3 linked regions of the Homo sapiens genome follow. The protein of the gene in region 1 purifies or fractionates together with the protein of each later gene. This does not show direct contact. Each region holds a gene or a part of one and is shown on either strand. Other genes may lie near its edges. The genes, in order: MTMR10, PLEKHG3 and MTM1.

What was found.
Region 2: the proteins of MTMR10 (region 1) and PLEKHG3 purify together in Homo sapiens (affinity purification with mass spectrometry; one large-scale study listed by BioGRID and IntAct). This does not show direct contact.
Region 3: the proteins of MTMR10 (region 1) and MTM1 purify together in Homo sapiens (affinity purification with mass spectrometry, with the first as the bait; one large-scale study listed by BioGRID). This does not show direct contact.

What each region holds. Positions count from the first base shown.
Region 1 is NC_000015.10:30,950,129-30,953,628, reverse strand, and holds part of MTMR10 (myotubularin-related protein 10), read left to right. Parts: coding exon 1-67; intron 68-1,590; coding exon 1,591-1,661; intron 1,662-3,500.
Region 2 is NC_000014.9:64,710,887-64,714,617, forward strand, and holds part of PLEKHG3 (pleckstrin homology domain-containing family G member 3), read left to right. Parts: intron 1-3,731. UniProt on the Homo sapiens protein: Plays a role in controlling cell polarity and cell motility by selectively binding newly polymerized actin and activating RAC1 and CDC42 to enhance local actin polymerization.
Region 3 is NC_000023.11:150,575,013-150,578,743, forward strand, and holds part of MTM1 (myotubularin), read left to right. Parts: intron 1-3,731. UniProt on the Homo sapiens protein: Lipid phosphatase which dephosphorylates phosphatidylinositol 3-monophosphate (PI3P) and phosphatidylinositol 3,5-bisphosphate (PI(3,5)P2). Has also been shown to dephosphorylate phosphotyrosine- and phosphoserine-containing peptides.

The sequences.
Region 1 (3,500 bases):
CTTTTGAAGAAACTGAAGAGAAATGGTTATCTTCACTGGAAAATACTCGATGGTTAGAATATGTAAGGTTTGTACTTCTTTACTTTCTTTTCCTTTAACTTTTTATTTTGAGATAACTACAGACTCACTGGAGGTACAAAAATAGCACAGAGGGCCATGTACTTACTCTTCATCCAACTTCCCCCAATAGTAACATCTCGTAACTAGAGTACAGCATCCAAACCAGGAAGCTGACACTGGGACACTGGATAGCTCTTACTCACCAGTTCATACATGCTGTCGTCTGTGTGCATGCCCTTAACACAGCTGTGCGATTTTATCACGTGTGTAGGTTCACGTAACCACCACCACAGGGAGATACAGACCTGTTCCATGACAAGGCTCCCCTGTGCTAGCCTTCTTATAGGTGCACCCTCATCGCCATCTGTGTCTGTTGACTACCACTAATCTCTTCTCAATCTCTATAGTTTTGTCATAAGTCAACCCCTTCCTTTTCATAAAGGGTTTATGAATTTCCCTGATGAAAAAGTACAAAATGAGGCCAGGCGTGGTGGCTCATGCCTGTAATCCCAGCACTTTGGGAGGCCAAGGCGGGTGGCTCACCTGAGGTCAGGAGTTCAAGACCAGCCTGGCCAACATGGTGAAACCTTGTCTCTGCTAAAAATACAAAAATTAGCCAAGCATGGTGGCACGCACCTGTAGTCCCAGCTACTCAGGAGGCTGAGGCAGGAGAATCACTTGAACCTGGGAGGCAGAGGTTGCATTGAGTCAAGATCACGCCACTGCACTGCAGCCTGGGTGATAGAGCAAGTCTCCATCTCAAAAAAAAAAATTTACAAAGTGGGGCCGGTTGTGGTAGCTCATGCCAGTAATTCCAAAGCTCTGGGGAGGAAGATCACTTGAGGCCAGTAGTTCACAACCAGCCTGAGCAACACAGTGAGACCCCATCTCCACAAAAAAGTTGGAAACTAGCCAGGCATGGTGGCATGTGCCTGCTGTCCTAGGGAGCCTGAGGCAGGAGGATCACTTGAGGCCAGGAGTTCACAACCAGCCGAGGAACATAGTGAGATGCCCATCTCCACAAAAAAATTTTAAAACTAGGCAGGCATGGTGGCTCGTGCCTGTGGTCCTAGCTGCTCAGGAGGTGGAGGCAGGAGGATCACTTGAGGCCAGGAGTTCAGGGTTACAATGAGCTGTGATATGCCACTGCACTCTAGTGTGGGTGACAAAATGAGAGCCTGTCTCTTAAAAAGAAAACAAAAATTACAAAATATACTCCTTTGAGAAATCGTATAAGTAACTAAAGAAACTTTACGGTAATGCGAAAGCTATGTGCATTCAGTAGAAAGCAGTCAATCCTCTCTTGTGATGCTGAGTAGCAGCAGGGAGCCACAGCTGCCAGTCAGCCACACAGTCTCAGTTTAGGGTATTTTCAGCTTACAGTGGGTTATCATGGGTCATGAGTTATGGGAATATCATGATCAGAGAGCATCTGTAAAGTGAGAAATTAGATTTGCTTGATTTCAAGTACTTTATGTATTTGTAGTGGAAATTTGATTTTTAACACTGCTTTTCCTTTTCTCTCTTCAGGGCATTCCTTAAGCATTCAGCAGAACTTGTATACATGCTAGAAAGCAAACATCTCTCTGTAGTCCTACAAGGTAACTAAAGTAACTCCTGAAAGCACCATGACCACCATACCAGCCAGCCTTGGTTTACTGCTTGTCCCCATTCAAGTAAATCACATCAGTTTTAGCTATTTCTTATTTACTACAGTACCATCAAATACATTACAGATTTTGCACATCATTTGAGTAAAACAGTGGCACAGGCTGGGCGCAGTGGCTGAAGCCTGTAATCCCAGACTTTGGGAGGTCGAGGCGGGCGGATCACTTGAGGTCAGAAGTTTGAGATCAGCCTGGCCAACGTGGTGAAACCTTGTCTCTACTAAAAATACAAAAATTAGTCAGGAGTGGTGGTGTGCGCCTGTAGTCTCAGCTACTCGGGAGGCCGAGGCAGGAGTATCACTTGAACCTAGGAGGCGGAGGTTGCAGTGAGCAGAGATCGCACCACTGCACTCCAGCCTGGGCAACACAGCAAGACTCAAAAAAAAAATAAATAAAAACCAGTGGCACAAGGACTGCAAATAGAAGAATAGAAAGTAGTCCAGTTTTTACCCTTTATTAAATTATCCTTCCTATTTTATGGGAAGGGTGGGTCCCATCCCCTAATGGATTAATACTTAGTGTTAATTTTGACAGGGCATTCTCTCTCTGTAATTTTGCTGTCTAATTTGTACAAATTTGTTTTAGTTTAAATACCTTCTGGCTCATGCTAGATTATGACTCTAAGGAAGCAGTTTGAGATGAAGAAATTTAGACTGAACTGCTGAATAGCTAGTAATGTAATATTTGGTAGGAATAAACGGTGATGTAAAAATCTTTCAGTTAAGCAAAGGATAATTACATATTAAATAACTTACAGCTAATAGAATTTGTAAGTTTGCAGATAAAGTTCAATAGACTAAAAACTACCTTCGTATAATACAGTAGTAGGTCCTTTGTACCCATGGCTTCCCCATCTGTGGTCAACCAACCCAGGACTGAAAATATTGGCGGGGGAAAGCTTTGGCCGTAATGAACATGAACAGACTTTTTTTTTGTTGTCATTATTCTCTAAACAGTATAGTATAACAACTGTTTACATAGCATTTACATTGTATTAGGTGTTATAAGTAATCTAGAGGTAACTTAAAGTGTACAGGAGGATGTGCATAGGTTATATGCAAATATTAACATCATTTTATATCCAGGACTTAAGCATTTGTGGATCTTGGTATCCAAAGGAGGCCCTGGAATGAGTTCCCCATGGATACTGAGGGAAGACTATATACTCATGTTGCATAGTATATGAATACAAAATGTTGCTTAAGCTTGCAGAAGTACTTTTTTTTTTTTTGAGATGGAGTTTCGCTCCTGTCACCTAGGCTGGAGTGCAGTGGAACGATCTCAGCTCACTGCAACCTCCACCTCCTGGGTTCAAGCGATTCTCCTGCTTCAGCCTCCCAAGTAGCTGGGATTACAAGCATGCACCACCACGCCCGGCTAATTTTTGTATTTTTACTAGAGATGGGGTTTCACCTTGTTGGCCAGGCTGCTCTCGAACTCCTGCCCTCAGGTGGTCTGCCCACCTCAGCCTCCCAAAGTGCTAGGATTATAGGCGTGAGCCACCGTGCCTGGCCAGGCTTGCAGAAGTACATTTAACAACTGCCAAACTTGATTGACTTTAACAAGGCAAAAATCTTTAAGACTCTTAGAAAAAAATCAAATAGTAATGTGTCATATAAAGTAATCCTGAACTGATACAGTCAGAGTGTGTGTTTAACTCACAAATGCATGCAGAGCCTAATAATCACAATTTCTCTCATCCAGTGGGTGTTCTCATCGTATTGGAGAACCCTACTCATCCTCCATTTCTCCATGCATTTGTAATAGAAAAGG
Region 2 (3,731 bases), on another chromosome or scaffold:
TTGATAATTTATGCTTTGCTGGTAATTGTGACCCAGAGTCATCAAGAAAAGGTTAAATTATGTTCCCTTGACTCTGTTTAGGAAGGCAGGGAAGTGTGTAACGGATTTTTAAAAGATTCCCAGTCAGGTTGGCTAAAATTTTAAGTGTTGATACTTAGGTAATAATATCACTAATCCTTTAAATAAGACCAAGTAGGTGGTTTACCCACTTCACCCACCCCAGATGAGGAAACCAAGTCCCCACGAGTTGGGTAACTTGCTCAGGATCGCTCAGCTAATACTTGGCAGGGATGGGGTTTGAACTTTTGGAGCCCGCTCTTAGCCCTACCCCACACTGTTTTGAAACTCTGCATGCTCTTGCAAATGCTGCTTTTTGGATGCCCTCTCTCTACAGAGGTTCCAGCTGGCCAAAGTTTGACTGTGTTACAGTAGAGCCTGGATGAGTCCAATCTTAATTCGGCTCCACCCAAGCAGATTGCCAGTTATCCCAAAGGGTGTTTGCCTCAGTTGAAACAAGAATGCTTTTTTTTTGTTTTTTTTTTTTTGAGACGGAGTCTCACTCTGTTGCCCAGGCTGGAGTGCAGTGGCATGATCTCGGCTCACTGCAAGCTCCGTCTCCCGTGTTCATGCCATTCTCCTGCCTCAGCCTCCCGAGTAGCTGGGACTACAGGCACCCACCACCACGTCTGGCTAATTTTTGTATTTTTAGTACAGACAGGGTTTCACCTTGTTAGCCAGGATGGTCTCGATCTCCTGACCTTGTGATGCGCCTGCCTTGGCCTCCCAAAGTGCTGGAATTACAGGTGTGAGCCATTGCGCCCGGCCAAGAGTTCTTTATATATTCTGGATACAAGTTCATTGTCAAGTATACGATTTACAGATATTTTTTCCCATTCTGTGATTTGTCTTTTCACTTTCTTGGTAGTGTGCTGTGAAACACAAAAGTTTAAAATTTTGATGATGAAGTACAATTTATTTTTTCTTTAGTTGCTAGTGCTTTTGGTGTTACACCTAAGAAACCATTGCTCACTCAGGTTCATAAAGATTTACTCCTATCTTTTCTTCTAAGAGTTTGATAGTTTTAGCTCTTACATTTAGGTCTGTGACCCATTTTGACTTTTTTGTATATGGTTTGAAATAGGTGTCCAGATTCATTCTTTTGCATGTGAAGATCTAGCACCTTTTGTTGAAAAGACTATTCTTTCTCTATTGAATTGTCTTGGCACCCTTGTTGAAAATCAGTTGCCAATAAATATGTTGTTTTATTTCTGTAATCTCAATTCTCTTTCATTGATCTATATGTCTGCCCTTACACCGGTACCATATAGTCTTGATAACTATAGCTTTGTAGTAAGTTTTGAAATCAGGTTGTATCAGCCCCCCAACTTGGTTCTTTTTCAAGGTTGTTTTGGGTATTCTGGGTCCCTTGCTTTTCCATATGAATTTTAGGATCAGCTTGTCAATATCTGCAAAAAAAAAATCAGCTATATTTTGATAGAGATTGTATTGCATCTTTAGATTGGTTTGTTGAGTATTGCCATATTAACAATGTTAAATGTTCCATTCCATGAACAAGGAATGTCTTTTAGGTCTTCTTTAATTTCTTTCAACAGTGTTTTGTGGTTTTCAGCATACAAGTCTTACACTTCTTTCGTTAAATATATTCCTAAGTATTTTATTCTTTTTGCTGCTATTATAAATGGGAGTCTTAATTCCATTTTATGATTGCTCATTGCTAGTGTACAGGAATAAAATAGATTTTTGTGTGTTGATCTTGTATTCTGGTACATTGCTGAACACTTTTATTGGTTCTAATAGTTTTGTGGTAGATTACTTAGGATTTTCCATATACAAGTTCATGTTATCTATGAATAGAGATTGTTTTATTTCTTCCTTTTCAACCCAGATCTCTTCTATTTCTTTTTCTTGTCTAATTGCCCTGGCTGGAACTCCAGTATCGAATATAGTGGCAAGACTGGATATCCTTGTCTTCTTACTAATCTTAGTGAAAAAGCATTGTCTTTCTCCATTGATTATGATGTACCTGTGGGTTTTTCATGGATGTTCTGTGTAAGGTTGGGGATATTCTCTTCTCTTCCTAGATTGTTGAGCGTTTTTATCATAGAAGAGTGTTGGATTTTGTCAAAATTTTTTTCTGGGTGTATTGAAGTGATCAGGTGATTTTTACACTTTATCCTATTATCAACCTGAATTATTTTAATTAATTTTTAGATGTTAACCTAATCTTGCATCTCTGGGATAAATCCCACTTGGTCATAATGTATGGTTGTGGTTGCTAGATTCAATTTGTTAGTATTTTGTTGAGGATTTTTGTGTCTATATTCATAAGGAATGTGGGATTGTAGGTTTCTTTTTTCTGATATCTTGTCTGGTCCTGATGGCAGGGTAATACTGGCCTCATAGAATGAGTTGGGAAGTATTTCCTGCTGTTTTTTTGTGGGGTGAGAGTTTGTGAAGAGTTGATATGAATTATTCTTTAAATGTTTGGTAGACTTCACCAGGGAAGCCGTCTAGTCCTGGGCTTTTCTTCATTGGAAGTTTTAAAGTTACTAATTTAATCTCTTGTTTAGACTTTTTCTTTCTAAATCTGTCAGTGGTTTGTGCCCTTCTAGAAATTTGGCTGTTTCAACAAAGTTATCCAATTCATTGGCATATAGTTCATGACATTTCCTTATCATCCTTTAAGATATTTTTTGTCTTTGGTGTTCTGCATATATACTATATACAGTATGTCTGAATGTGGGCTTATTTGAAGTTTAGCTTGGTGTGTGCCTTCAATCTGAGGACTAAAGTCTATCCTTAGTTCTAGAAAGTTCATATACATTATCTCTTTGAAATTTGCACCTTCCCCCATTTCCTTTTTTTTTCTCTGTGGACCTCTAAGTCTATTAATGTTTATATTTCCTATCTTATTTGTTTGAATTAAATTCAGGATGATTTCTTCAGTTTATCTTTCACTTAACTAATTCTCTCTTTAGCTGTGTTTAATTTTCTATTTAACTATTGGGTTTTATATTTCAATATTGAATATTTTATTTTCATGTATTGCTTTTTCTAATTGGCCTGTTCCTTACCCCCTATACTACCATCTTCTTTTATTAAGATTTTTATCTCTTTTATATTTCCAATCATTTAAACTATTCATCTTTAAACATCTTTTGTAGACCTATTCTTTAATTTCTAGTTCTTTGAGTGCCAGTTTGTTCAATTTTCTGACTTCCTTATGATGGTTTGTTTCCTTGTGTGGTTTGAAATTTCTGTATCAGGTTCCTCTTCAGTGGTTACAGAGGATGGGATACTTCAAAGCAAGGTTTTGGAAGCGTGCACTTATTGGTGATGATGAGGTCTGGGGCATATGAGACATGTGAGTGGATGGCTATGGTGGGGTAGAGGAAAAGACTGTTGGAAGGCTCATCCCCCAAAGCTTCACATGTTTGGCTGCTTCTTACAATACAGGTCTCTCTGCTCTAGAGTCACCTCTTTAATGCCTTCCCAGGCCTCCTTAGCTAGTGGAAATTCCCATCTCTCAGAGTATTCTGTTTTCCCTCCTCTATCTTTTTCATAGCACTTACACTTTCCAAAAATGTGTTAGTTATTTGTCTACCTTTTTGTGGCCGTCTTGCTTACTGGAATGTAAGCTCCATGAGAATGAGGATGTGTCTTATTCACTGCTGTGTCCCTAGCACGTGGCACATGGTTTATACTGTCAA
Region 3 (3,731 bases), on another chromosome or scaffold:
TCTGGGTTTGCAGCCTCCGCTGCAACTTCCTGCAGCTCTCATGACTACAGGGTTTTTTCTCGGTTTCAGTTTTTAGTTTTGTAAGCCATATTAAAAAGGCACCATTGGTATATGTATGAAATGCAATCTTCTTTCTTGAGGGGAACTTCAAAGAACTCGAGGAATGCCTCTTTCTTCTCTGGCTTTTCAGAGCTGGTGCAGAGTCCCTAAACAGAAGTTTCCTCATAGAGGGAATACCACGGACCAGGAGATTGCCTTTCCTGCTGCTCATTAGAATCACTTGGGGAGTTTTACATACTTGCTGCCCTGGGCATCGCCCACAGATATTCGAACTTAATTGATCTGGGCTGAGACTCTTGACATCTGCATTTTTAAAAAGTGGTCCCAGCGTGCAGCACTACCAGGAGCGCTTCTCCAACTTCATTGCCTTATGAATCACCTGGACTTCGAGTTGAAACACAGATTCTGACTCAGTGGTTCCGGGATGGGCCCGGAGAGCTTTTTCTTCTCATTTCCATCAAGCTCCCAGGTGATGCCAACAGTGTTGCTCTGTGGCTCCCACTCAGAGCAGCAAGCCACATCATAATCACCTGAGGGGTTTTTGCAAAACTACAAATTCCTGGCATCATGCCTGGAGTTTCTGATTCAGTAGGTCTGGGGTGGGGCCCAAGATCTTTACTTGAGAAGGCTCTTGCTTTCAATGTTTCACCATAAAGTATTGTGTTTACTCTAGGTTTTGTGTAGGGGCACTTCTAGTGTACATTTTTTTCGGTCATAAGTGGATGTTGAGTTTTATCAAGCCCCTTTTCTTCCTTTATGGAGATAGGTTTTTGGTTTGTGTTTTTGTAGAGAGGGCTTCTTACTGTGTTACCCAGGCTGGTCTCAAACTCCTGTCCTCAAGCAATTCTCCTGCCTCAGTCTCCCAAAGTGCTTAGGATTACAGGCGTGAGGGAGAACCTGTGTTTTCCCTCCTTGAACTTGTTAATGTGGTAGGCTATTTTAAGGGATTTTCTAGTATAACTTTGTAGCATTAACTAAGTTTGTATTGCTGGGATAAACTCAACAGGGTCATGTTCTTTCTTACTGCTGGGTTTGATTGCTAATACTTTCTTTAGGATTTTTACATCTTATATACATAAGATTTGGTATTAGTTTTCCTGTGCTGTCTTGGTCTAGTTTAGTATCATGCTTATGCTAGCCTTATAAAGTGAGTTGAGATATTCCCTTTTTCTGTTCTCTGGAAGTTTGTATAAGATTGGAGTTACTGGTTCCTTGAATGTTGCTAGAACTTGCACATGGAGCTGCCTGGGGCCTGGAAGATTATAAACTACCAGCAAATGTCTGCCAAATCTATAGCTGTGTCTGTCTTTTCATTCCTGCATCCTACTATTGTTTGTTTGTGCCCTCCTTTTTTCTTTATTAGTCTAACCAGAGGTTTGTCAGTTGTGGTTATGGCACCAACTTGATAATATAATTATGTTCATTTGTTTCCCTTTTAGGGCTTTTCCCCTGCTTTTTTGATTAATTTTTAACGAGTAAAAACTTTATATGATTTTGAAGTCACATTTATTTCAAGGTATATTCAGAAAAGTCTTGCTTTCACCCCATCTCTGACCAGGTATTCTGTTTCTTTCCCCCCCGTAGATGATCAATCTTATTAGTTTGTTCTTCTAAGTATCTTTTGCAAATTTGAGCAAGCACGTACATGTATTTTCCCCTTTTCTTGCACAAAAACATATTTCATACACTATTCAGCCTCTTGCCCTTTTCACTTAAAGAATATACCAGGAATCATTCTTCATTTTCTCCTCCTTTCTTTAGATTTATTCTGCTGTTTGGATGTTTCAAAACATAGTATTTTCATGATTATTTAGTTGTGATATTTTCTATTATGATTATTTCATTCACCTGCGAGCTGTTTAGAAGTATATTTTTACTTACAAATGTATTTTCTGGGTATTTTCAAAACTGATTTACAACTTAACTGCATTATGGTGAAAGAATATGATGTGAACACTCGTAGTTCTTTGAAATTTGTCAAGGATAGGCTTATGTGGTATTTTTGTGGCTGGCTTCTTTCACTTAGCATACTGCTTTTTATATTCATTTTTGTGTTGTTGCATGTATCAGCAGTTCCTGACTTTCTGTTGCTGAGTAGTATTCCATAGTATGGTTATAATGTAATTTATTCATTCAGTAGTTGATCATTTGAGTTGATTCAGTTTTTGGCCATTTTGAAAAAAAGCTGCCATGAACATTCACATACAAGTCTTTGTGTGGACTCATGCTTTTATTTGCTTCGTGTAAATACTTAGGTGTGGCATTGCTGGGCCATATGTTTAGTGTATGTTTAACTTTACAAGGAACTGTCAAACTGTTTTCCAAAGTGGCCATGCCATTGTGCCATTTTGCATTCCTACTGGCTTTAATTGTCTGCCTTTAAAATGTTAGCCATTTGACTGGGTGTATAATGGTATCTCATTGTATTTTTAACTTACAAATTCCTAGTGACTAGTAATAGTGAGCATGTCTTTATGTGCTTGTTGGCCATTAAGTTTATCTTCTTTGGTGAAGGATTTGCTGAAATCTTTTGCCCATTTCTTATTAAATTGGATTGTCTGTCTGAAGTTGTGAGGGTTCTTTTTATATTCTGGATACAAGTACTTCATCAGATATGTGATTTGCAAGCATGTTCTCTCAAACTGTGGTTTGTCTTTCATTTTCTTAACTGTGCCTGTGCAAGAGCAAGGAGTTTTGATTTTGATGAAGTCCTATTTACTTTTTCCCCTGTTATGGTTTGAGTTTTTGTGTTTTAAGAAATCTTTACTTAACCTAAGTTCACAAAAATTTTCCCCTGTGTTCCTTCCAGAACTTTTTTAGTCCTGCTCTTATGTTTAGATCTGTTTTGGCAGACAGATCTTTCCAACCCCTGGTGTTTATACCTGTGTGATCCCCTTCCCTTGAGTGTGAGCAGGACCTGTGACTTGCTTCTAGAATATAGACTAGAATATGGAAAAAGTGTAGGGATTCTACAGATATAATTAAGGTCACAACCAGTAGATTTTGAATTAATCAAAAGAGAAGTTATCCTGGGTAGGCCTGAATTAATCAGCACAAAACCCTTAAAAGAAGGTCTGGGTCCTCCCCGAGGTGAGATTCTCTTTGCTGACTTGTTGATGTGAGCAGCCACATTGAGGAAGGCCACATAGAAAGGAACTGCAGGTGGTCTCTAGGAACTAAAAGCTGCTTAGCAAAAAGCCAGGGCCTTCAACCATGCAGCCTAAAGGAAATGAGTTCTGCCAACACTCTGAATGAGCTTGGAAGCAGATTTTCCCCAGTTGAGCCTCCAGATGAGAATGCAGCCTGGCCATTACCTTGATTGCAACTTTGTGAGACCCTGAGCAGAGGACCCAGCTAAGCTGTGCCTGGACACCTGACCCACAGAAACTGTGAGATGATAAATGTGTGCTGTTTATGGCTGCTAAGTTTGTTATTCAGCAATATAAAACTAGTATGTCTATGTTCCATTTCAAGTTAATTTTGTATATTTTGTGAAGTAAGGGTAAAGATTCATTTATTTTTCCATATGGACATCAAACTGTTCCAGCATCATTTGTGGGAAAAGGCCCACACATTTTGGTAATTTTGTTGAAAATCAATTGACCATTGCTAGGACCTCAAAAAGAAGGGCCTAATTATAGTCTCTGTTCTGTTCCATTGATCTGTATGTC